Linked DNA regions of Homo sapiens: region 1 is linked to region 2. Evidence: fine-mapped expression QTL. A gene starts in region 2. The other region holds a variant in brackets. All regions are shown on one strand. Distances are between the middles of the regions. Region 1 overlaps C1QTNF3 (C1q and TNF related 3). Region 2 holds the start of C1QTNF3 (C1q and TNF related 3).

Region 1 (4,398 bases), 24 kb after region 2:
AAGTCAGTTACATGTGTTACTAAACCACACTCCATATACTTTTCTTGACAGTTTTCAGCCTGCTATTCCTTGTCTTCATGCCTTTCTCTCAAGTTAATGGAGTTACCCTGAGGCCTTCTAAAGCAATCGATTTGGGCAGAAAGGCAATATTTTTAATCCATCAGATTGTGCCACAGCTGTGTCTACTTGATTGAATGAGTAGTCTTTTTTTATTATGATTTTACTTTAAGTTCCAGGATACATGTGCAGAATGTGCAGGTTTGTTACACAGGTATACATGTGCCATGGTGGTTTGCTGCACCTATCAACTCATCATCTAGGTTTCAAACCCTGCATGTGTTAGTTATTTGTCCTAATGCTCTCCCTCCCCTTTCCCCTCACCCTGCCACAGGTCCTGGTGTGTGATGTTCCCCTCCATGTGTCCATGTGTTCTCATTGTTCAACTCCCACTTATGAGTGAGAATATGCGGTGTTTGGTTTTCTGTTCCTGTGTTTGTTAGTTTGCTGAGAATGATGACTTACAGCTTCATGCATGTCCCTGCAAAGGGCATGAACTCATTCTTTTTTATGGCTGCTGAATGAGTAGTCTTAAGGAAAAAACATCAACTTTATCACTGCTCTTCCAGATATAAAGACACCTGGCTTTTTTAACCTTGTTAGGCCCTAATCACGTAGACATTATTTACTTCCTTTTCTTCAAACAAGTCAGTTTTTGCCTAACTCATCTTTGGTAGCAACATCTTTCTAAAAGCAGCAAAGAGTACTTTGGCTTTTTCCAGTCACTTCCCTTTCTTACCCTACAGGCATTAGATCTGTCTTCCAAGTTATCACATTTTCCAAATGTTTTTGCACAGTGTAACATGGATCTTCTGCTTTCCCAGACCATGATATTTGTTTCCCCATTGCTCCTTGCCTGACCATGAGCCAGTGCAAGCCTATTTTTATTTGGGTTGCGGAGCAGCCTCCTTTTGTACCAAATTCTAGCTTGGTTAGGGGAAGCTAAATTACTGTAACAAAAACCCAGTGGAATAGCTCAAACATAATATAACTTTCTTTCCTTCTCATCAAACAGCCCAAGGTTGTTCCAGGTTGGAGCAGAGAAGAGAGAGAGCTCTTTTCCACATGGTCTCCAAGAACCCAGTATTCAACATATGGCTTCTAAGATCATTCTGGTCATTGTCATGAACATTCCAGACAGTCATAAGAAGGAGCAGGGAGGGGTTTTGTGAGAGTGTTACTAGCCAGCTTTAGAAGTGGTACATAGGTCATTTCTGCTCACAGGCTGTTTAGAGAACTTAGCCGCAGGATTATACCTGTGGGAAGGAGAGAAGGGGAGCACAGACTTTGGTGAAGAGCTGGTTGTTCATGGCAAAAACTAAGTAGTTTGTTCCTCTTTTTCTTTCCAGCTATGAAATGAAGGGCAAATCAGATACATCCAGCAATCATGCTGTGCTGAAGCTAGCCAAAGGGGATGAGGTTTGGCTGCGAATGGGCAATGGCGCTCTCCATGGGGACCACCAACGCTTCTCCACCTTTGCAGGATTCCTGCTCTTTGAAACTAAGTAAATATATGACTAGAATAGCTCCACTTTGGGGAAGACTTGTAGCTGAGCTGATTTGTTACGATCTGAGGAACATTAAAGTTGAGGGTTTTACATTGCTGTATTCAAAAAATTATTGGTTGCAATGTTGTTCACGCTACAGGTACACCAATAATGTTGGACAATTCAGGGGCTCAGAAGAATCAACCACAAAATAGTCTTCTCAGATGACCTTGACTAATATACTCAGCATCTTTATCACTCTTTCCTTGGCACCTAAAAGATAATTCTCCTCTGACGCAGGTTGGAAATATTTTTTTCTATCACAGAAGTCATTTGCAAAGAATTTTGACTACTCTGCTTTTAATTTAATACCAGTTTTCAGGAACCCCTGAAGTTTTAAGTTCATTATTCTTTATAACATTTGAGAGAATCGGATGTAGTGATATGACAGGGCTGGGGCAAGAACAGGGGCACTAGCTGCCTTATTAGCTAATTTAGTGCCCTCCGTGTTCAGCTTAGCCTTTGACCCTTTCCTTTTGATCCACAAAATACATTAAAACTCTGAATTCACATACAATGCTATTTTAAAGTCAATAGATTTTAGCTATAAAGTGCTTGACCAGTAATGTGGTTGTAATTTTGTGTATGTTCCCCCACATCGCCCCCAACTTCGGATGTG[G/C]GGTCAGGAGGTTGAGGTTCACTATTAACAAATGTCATAAATATCTCATAGAGGTACAGTGCCAATAGATATTCAAATGTTGCATGTTGACCAGAGGGATTTTATATCTGAAGAACATACACTATTAATAAATACCTTAGAGAAAGATTTTGACCTGGCTTTAGATAAAACTGTGGCAAGAAAAATGTAATGAGCAATATATGGAAATAAACACACCTTTGTTAAAGATACTTTCTAAACTTGTGTTTAATAAACTTTAATAGTCATAGAATTGTAAATCACTATGGTTAACAGAAAGTGAAAATATTTTCATGCAGATGATGTGAACAGCCATGTGAATAGGTGACTTGGGCACACAGCAGGGTCATATGACTTCAGAAAACTTCGCTTTTCAGTTATTCCATTGTTATAATGTCAACCCTTTAAGACATTGATGTTTAGAGGGCTCACAAATAAAATCTGAATACCTGTAAGGAAAGAGGTTTTTTATCACATACCTTAAGTCTTTGTAATGTTCATGCTTAAATTCTAAGTTTTCACCTTAGTGACACACAAGGTTTGGTTGTAGGCAACAAGTCCCAGGTGTGTGGGAAATTGATTCACAACAGAGATGGGAAAAGGTGCAGATAATTTCCAATGCCTTCACAATTTACCCATGACCAGAAATATACTTGGAAGACTGATTTCACAAGTGTCCCAAAACTGAGATGCTAAAAAGGAAACAGTAGGTAGGTGTCATAGGAAATTTACATGTACCATCTAATAAACAAACTTGCAAATTCTAAATCTTTTTTTTTTTTGAGACAGTTTCACGCTGCTGCCCAGGCTGGAGTGCAGTGGCATGATCTCAGCTCACCGCAGCCTCCGCCTCCTGGGTTCAAGTGACTCTCCTACCTCAGCCTCCTGAGTAGCTGGGACTACAGGCGCCCACCACCAGGACCAGCTAATTTTTAATGTTTCTAATAGAGATGGGGTTTCACCATGTTGACCAGGCCGGTCTGGAACTCCTGACCTCAGGTGATCTGCCTGCCTCGGTCTTCCAAAGTGCTGGGATTACAGGCGTGAGCCCCCGCACCCAGCCGCAAATTCTAAATCTTAAAACAACTCTGCAAACGAAGCACTTGAGTTTCTGCTTGCTTCAGGGATGTAATATGGTGTAGAACTGTTTCACATAATGATCAGCCTTGGTAATTTTCCAGTGTAGAAAACATTATATTTGACCCTTGGACAACAAAGAGATTATATTGAAGGAATTTTATTGATTGTATCATGAATAAAAGCTGAAGTCAAAATTAAAATGTAAAAAAATAATTCAGAGGATGGAATATGCAAATGTAAACTCCAAATGATGTGGCTGGAATTCATAAACATTTACTTTATGCAAGATACTGTGCTATTCCAGGCACTCCTATGGCATTTAAAGTACAATTCTTACCTTCCCTAATTTTTCAACCTAGTAGAGGACAATAGGCTAAAGGGAATAAGTACATGGATAACAAAACATAAAGTAGAATGTTTTTACAGCCATAGAAGGCAAAGGGCTAGGAATTCACAGGAGAGAGAAACAGTATCTAGCTGAGAGCATAAGAAAAGCTTGTGGAAAAGATAATATCTGATGGCCAGAGACAATTTCTTGCTTTGGTATGTTTGAAGTGTTATATTTAAATATATATATTTTTATTTAAAAAACTCACTATAGAAAATTTATAAAATTCCCCAAAATATTTAGTATAAAATTAATCATCCCATCAAATATTAAATAATATTACTATTTTAAAGTGTTTATTTCAGTCTTTTCCTGCATGTATTTATGGCTTTTATTTTTAAATATAGTAATAAAATAATTTGAAATTAGCTTTTTATATATTTTTGTATCTTGCTCTAATGGGTTGGACTAAACATATTAAGAACACTCTCAAATGCTACTAAGGACAATTTGAAAACATAATTTTAATGACTGCATAATTTATTTAACTTTCCTGTTTTGGAAAATATTATTTTTTTTTTATTACAAATAATATGTCATGAGCATTCTCTTTTTAAAAAAATAAACTATGTGTGCATATAATTATTTCCTTTGATTAAATTTCCAGAAGTGAGATTATTTGGTAAAAAAGCCTAGACATTTTAAAAGCTGTTAATAATGTCACATTTAAAAAAAAAAAATAGCTTAAA
Region 2 (4,398 bases):
CCATTGACCCATTATTGATTTCTTGGGAGAGATCAATAATGGGCCAATGGCAGAGAGAAGGAGAGATCCTTCTTTGCAGAATCCTTCTCTGTAGATCTTTCTCTATAGCAAGGCAGGAGAACTCACTCTGGAAAGACAGATGGAGTCCAGTTCTTTCCAGCTGCATAACACAAGACAAGTCACTTTACCTCTGCAAGCTTCTATCACCTCATCTATAAGATGGGATCATAGGTTTGCCAACAGAAGTCAGTGAGATAAAGCAAAGTAGTACTTGGCTAGCACATGGTAAGTGCTTAACAAATTATGGATATTATTATTTATTCCTTTTGAGTCAATGAGAGGATGGATCAGTGATTCCTAACCCTGGATGCACCTTAGAATCATCTGAGGGAAGCTTTTAAAAACTGCCCAGGCCCCAGTACAGATTCTGACTCAATTGGTCTGGGATAGAGTCCAGGCATTAATATTTTTAGAAGCTCCTTGGTTTAATATGCAGCCAGGGTTGAGAACCACTAGAATAGATGACAGGATTGAAAACACGAATGGAAAGTCTCAATGCGGTAGAAAGTCAGAGGCTGATTTATAGTTACTTAGCAGTATGGCCCACTTCGTGGGGGATGCATGATGGTGAGAGCCAGAGACAGCTCTTGGAAAACCTGTGAATTGGGTGACCTAGATTTCAGAGCCACTGCTTGCTTTGTGGTCTCCCTGTGACATTTTCTCTGGGCCTCCCTGAGGAGGGAACACCCCCACTGAGACACTGCTCTGGGCTTTCCTTCCCACAGCAAAAGCCCATCCACTTGCTCACCCTCCAAACACAGGCGCCATCCTTTCCCCAGCTCCAGCTCCAGGTCTGGGAAGAAAATCCTCAGTTACTAAGAATAACAGTTTGACACACTTCCCTTCCCAGGGACATCTACCTTTTAATGGTGGACATGACAGAACTCAAGGAATCCTCCAGTGAGGAAGGTTTAGATGCTCAAGGGTAGACTTGTAGCACAGAGATGGCTGAATTTTTATGCCCTACTAGGTGGGAACTGACTGCTTGGACTGAACATGACTCCCAAGGCCCCTGAACTGTGGCCTGGAGAGCTTTTAGTTCACAGAGTAACTCTCTCCCTCCGTCCCCAGCACCAAACCCTTTCCATGTATAAGTGTGGACTCTGGAAGCGGCTGTTCTGGTAGCTGCAGGAGGGGCCAGGCTAGTTTTGACAGTTCTGGCCACTTCCAGAGATGGCTCTTGGTTCTCAGGCCCTTGGCTGAGCAATGGGGGCAGCTGTCAACAGCTCTCTCTCCTCTCCCCTTTCCCCAGCTGCTCTGACTCTTCATCAGCAGGCTGAGCTTCTCCAAGCCTCAGTTTCCCACAGTGCCTCCTCGCCCCCTTCTCATCAGACGCTTGCCACCCATGCTATTTACGGTCCTGGGTCTCTCCAGTTTTCATGAGAGAAGGCCAGTAACATTTTCTTAAGCGAGTGAATGAGTAATATAAATAAAATCATATGTAAATAGAAGCAATTTTTGATGACAAAACTGTTTAAATTCTCTTAATTTATTATCCTGAAGCAATTAGGAATGTCCATTTTCTTTTTGGCTGAATTAATAAAAGTATAGCAACTAAAGCAAAGACATGAGAATCCTCTTAATCTGGATACGCTGTGTTTGAAATAACGTGTTTGGTGCTTTCCACTTCTTCAGTTTTGTTATTTATTTATTTTTTAAGTAGAGACAGGGTCTCACTAAGTTGCCCAGGCTGGCCTCGAATTTCTGGGCTCAAGGGATCTACCTGTCTTGGGCTCTCAAGGTGCTGGGATTACAGGCATGAGCCACTGTGCCCGGCCCCGTTTCTATTTTAATCAAGAATATGTCAAAAGAAAGAGGAGCCAGAGACAGCCTTCTCTTAACACAAAGCAGGGTGTTGTATCTTCATCTGACAATAAGTGACTTAGTTAACTTTGATTTAATTTTGGCTTTTGGGAAGTCATGGGGAAAAGAAGTAAAGCTGAGGGTGGCGAAATACCTTTGCTAAACCCAGAGACACTGCACCTGAATCCTGCTCAGTGTTTTGTAGGCAACCAACTGCCTTCTGCCACTGGTATCCGGAAGGGGAAATGAGTTACCTTAAGTGGGCCAAAGTGGGGAAATACTAACAGTACAGCTAGAAACCAAGAGCTGTCGTGAAAGCCCTGAATGGGTTCCCACTGCTATTTCAGACAAAACTGATGCAGTTAAGCCTGAATTTCCTGGCAAGCACAAGGGTAGATTTTTCCAAAAGGCTTTTTAGACTGCAAATACACAGCCTTTCCATGTCTAATCACAAAAGCAAACTGCTGGACACATGCTCTCTGTTCCCAGCTGGTTGTGTATGTTTTCTTCACACTTCAACAGAAACGTGCCAAGGTGTGACATTTATGAATTTCGCCAACTGGGAACTGTGCACACAAATCGTTCTTGCTTGTGGTGTGGGAAAATGATGAATGGGGGCTGTTCTGCCTGGGGAGGAGGGCTGCTGTCACTCTGGCATGCCTACAGCCTTATTTATTACACACCAAAGTATAAAACCACTCCGCCGCTGCAGCTCTCAGCTCCAGTCCTGGCATCTGCCCGAGGAGACCACGCTCCTGGAGCTCTGCTGTCTTCTCAGGGAGACTCTGAGGCTCTGTTGAGAATCATGCTTTGGAGGCAGCTCATCTATTGGCAACTGCTGGCTTTGTTTTTCCTCCCTTTTTGCCTGTGTCAAGATGAATACATGGAGGTGAGCGGAAGAACTAATAAAGTGGTGGCAAGAATAGTGCAAAGCCACCAGCAGACTGGCCGTAGCGGCTCCAGGAGGGAGAAAGTGAGAGAGCGGAGCCATCCTAAAACTGGGACTGTGGATAATAACACTTCTACAGACCTAAAATCCCTGAGACCAGATGAGCTACCGCACCCCGAGGTAGATGACCTAGCCCAGATCACCACATTCTGGGGCCAGGTACTCAGAATTCTCTTCTAAGGATTTTTGTGAAAGCTTAATGAGTGTTGTTGTTGTTGTTTTGTTGTTGTTCTTTTTTTGGCTAAGATTCTTAGAATCAATGAATGCTTTCGAGAAGTTCGCTAAGCTGCTTGTGAATCTCTTTCTGGATTGCTCTTGGGTACAAGAGAGACTGTCGGTCTCTGTTAGAAAATCAGCAGAGGCAGCAATGATGTGATGGGATAGTGGCCGTAGCATCACCCCATCAGAAAGGGGAACCTGGCCAGCCAGCTTCCTGCTATGCTGGGACTTGATTTCCTTCTTGCTCTGTTGGTCCGGAAAGGAGTGCTGACCCATGCAGACAGATCGGTCACTGTAGACAATCATTTGTTGTTCTTAAGAGAATTGGGCTTTCTTCATCCCTTCCGGCAGGGAGAAGCTGCCCTTTGAGTTTGTCAAAAGCAATCAAAGTTTTTTTACTTTGATTTGTGAGTATACTGTGACATTTCATGGCAGTCTTGTTTATTTGATTTATAGCATTCTAGATTGTTAAGCCTCTCTGTTCAGCCTGTTTTAAAAAGAATTAAAGAGTTAAATAAAAAATAAACTGTTTGAAATGCATACCTTATAGCATGATTTGATGCCTGATAATCACAGAGGACTTGATCTATTTCTCAGGTTATAAATTCAGCTCTAAGGAAATATCTTTAACTCTTGGTAGTATGAGAGTGAGTTAAGATTTCAGTATAGTGAATTGCAAATTGGTGAAACTCAATGTAATTTAAAATATTAAGTACAGGAAGAGACATATTTTGAATTACCCTCTAGACATCTAGTATGCTGAAAACTGTCAGAGGGGGCAAGAAGAGTTACTTTGAGTTATATGATATTTGAACATACAGGTTTTTACTACAAGATTTGATTACTTTAATGCATTAAATAGGACCTGAAGAATTTCTTGTAATTGAAATCTAAATCCTTCCTACCATGGATTCAGAAGTTTGGGTTGGTTGTTTGGTTATATGGTCAGACCAAGATCACACACAGAATCAATTGCAGATTTGAAACTAACCCAGAACTTCTAACTTGACCACACAAGGCAGTTGCCCAAACCATTCTGTGGGGGATGCATCCAGAGAAAATTGCTTCTTTAAGGAGCCACGGAAGAAATGATAATCTCTAAATATGATCCTATCTTTTGAAAACCACTTTTAGAGATTGTCTATTCATCTGATAATCTTTTGGCTAAAGGGTAATGATTAGCACTAATTTGTGTGTGGGTTTTTGTTTGTTTTTGTTTTGTGGTGAAGATATTTTCACTTGTGTCCAAGACTTGATCTGGACTTTCCATTTCACACATGGTATCCTTCTTGGCCAACAGATGGTATCTTTCCTGGCCATGACAGTGTGATTCCCCCAGAGGAAGCAGAAGGAAGTTAAAGGTTGTC

What was found. PIP is the estimated chance that this variant, and not a neighbour inherited with it, causes the effect. A credible set is the group of variants that fine-mapping cannot tell apart.
Region 1: its variant is the best candidate, but not a certain one, in a credible set for the expression of C1QTNF3 in whole blood (TOPMed, PIP 0.50).

What each region holds. Positions count from the first base shown.
Region 1 is chr5:34,017,751-34,022,148 of GRCh38, reverse strand. It overlaps C1QTNF3 (C1q and TNF related 3), which reads left to right. Exons shown (of 6, transcript NM_181435.6): 6 at 1,407-4,291. The coding sequence ends at 1,566. It overlaps C1QTNF3-AMACR (C1QTNF3-AMACR readthrough (NMD candidate)), which reads left to right. Exons shown (of 9, transcript NR_037951.1): 6 at 1,407-1,562. Among named protein-coding and RNA genes, the nearest start is that of AMACR, 12 kb to the right of the region's middle. The variant G/C (reference allele first, on the strand shown) is at 2,224.
Region 2 is chr5:34,041,396-34,045,793 of GRCh38, reverse strand. C1QTNF3 (C1q and TNF related 3) reads left to right here and starts at 2,581. Exons shown (of 6, transcript NM_181435.6): 1 at 2,581-2,971. The coding sequence starts at 2,669. The region is part of intron 1 of C1QTNF3-AMACR (C1QTNF3-AMACR readthrough (NMD candidate)); the gene reads left to right.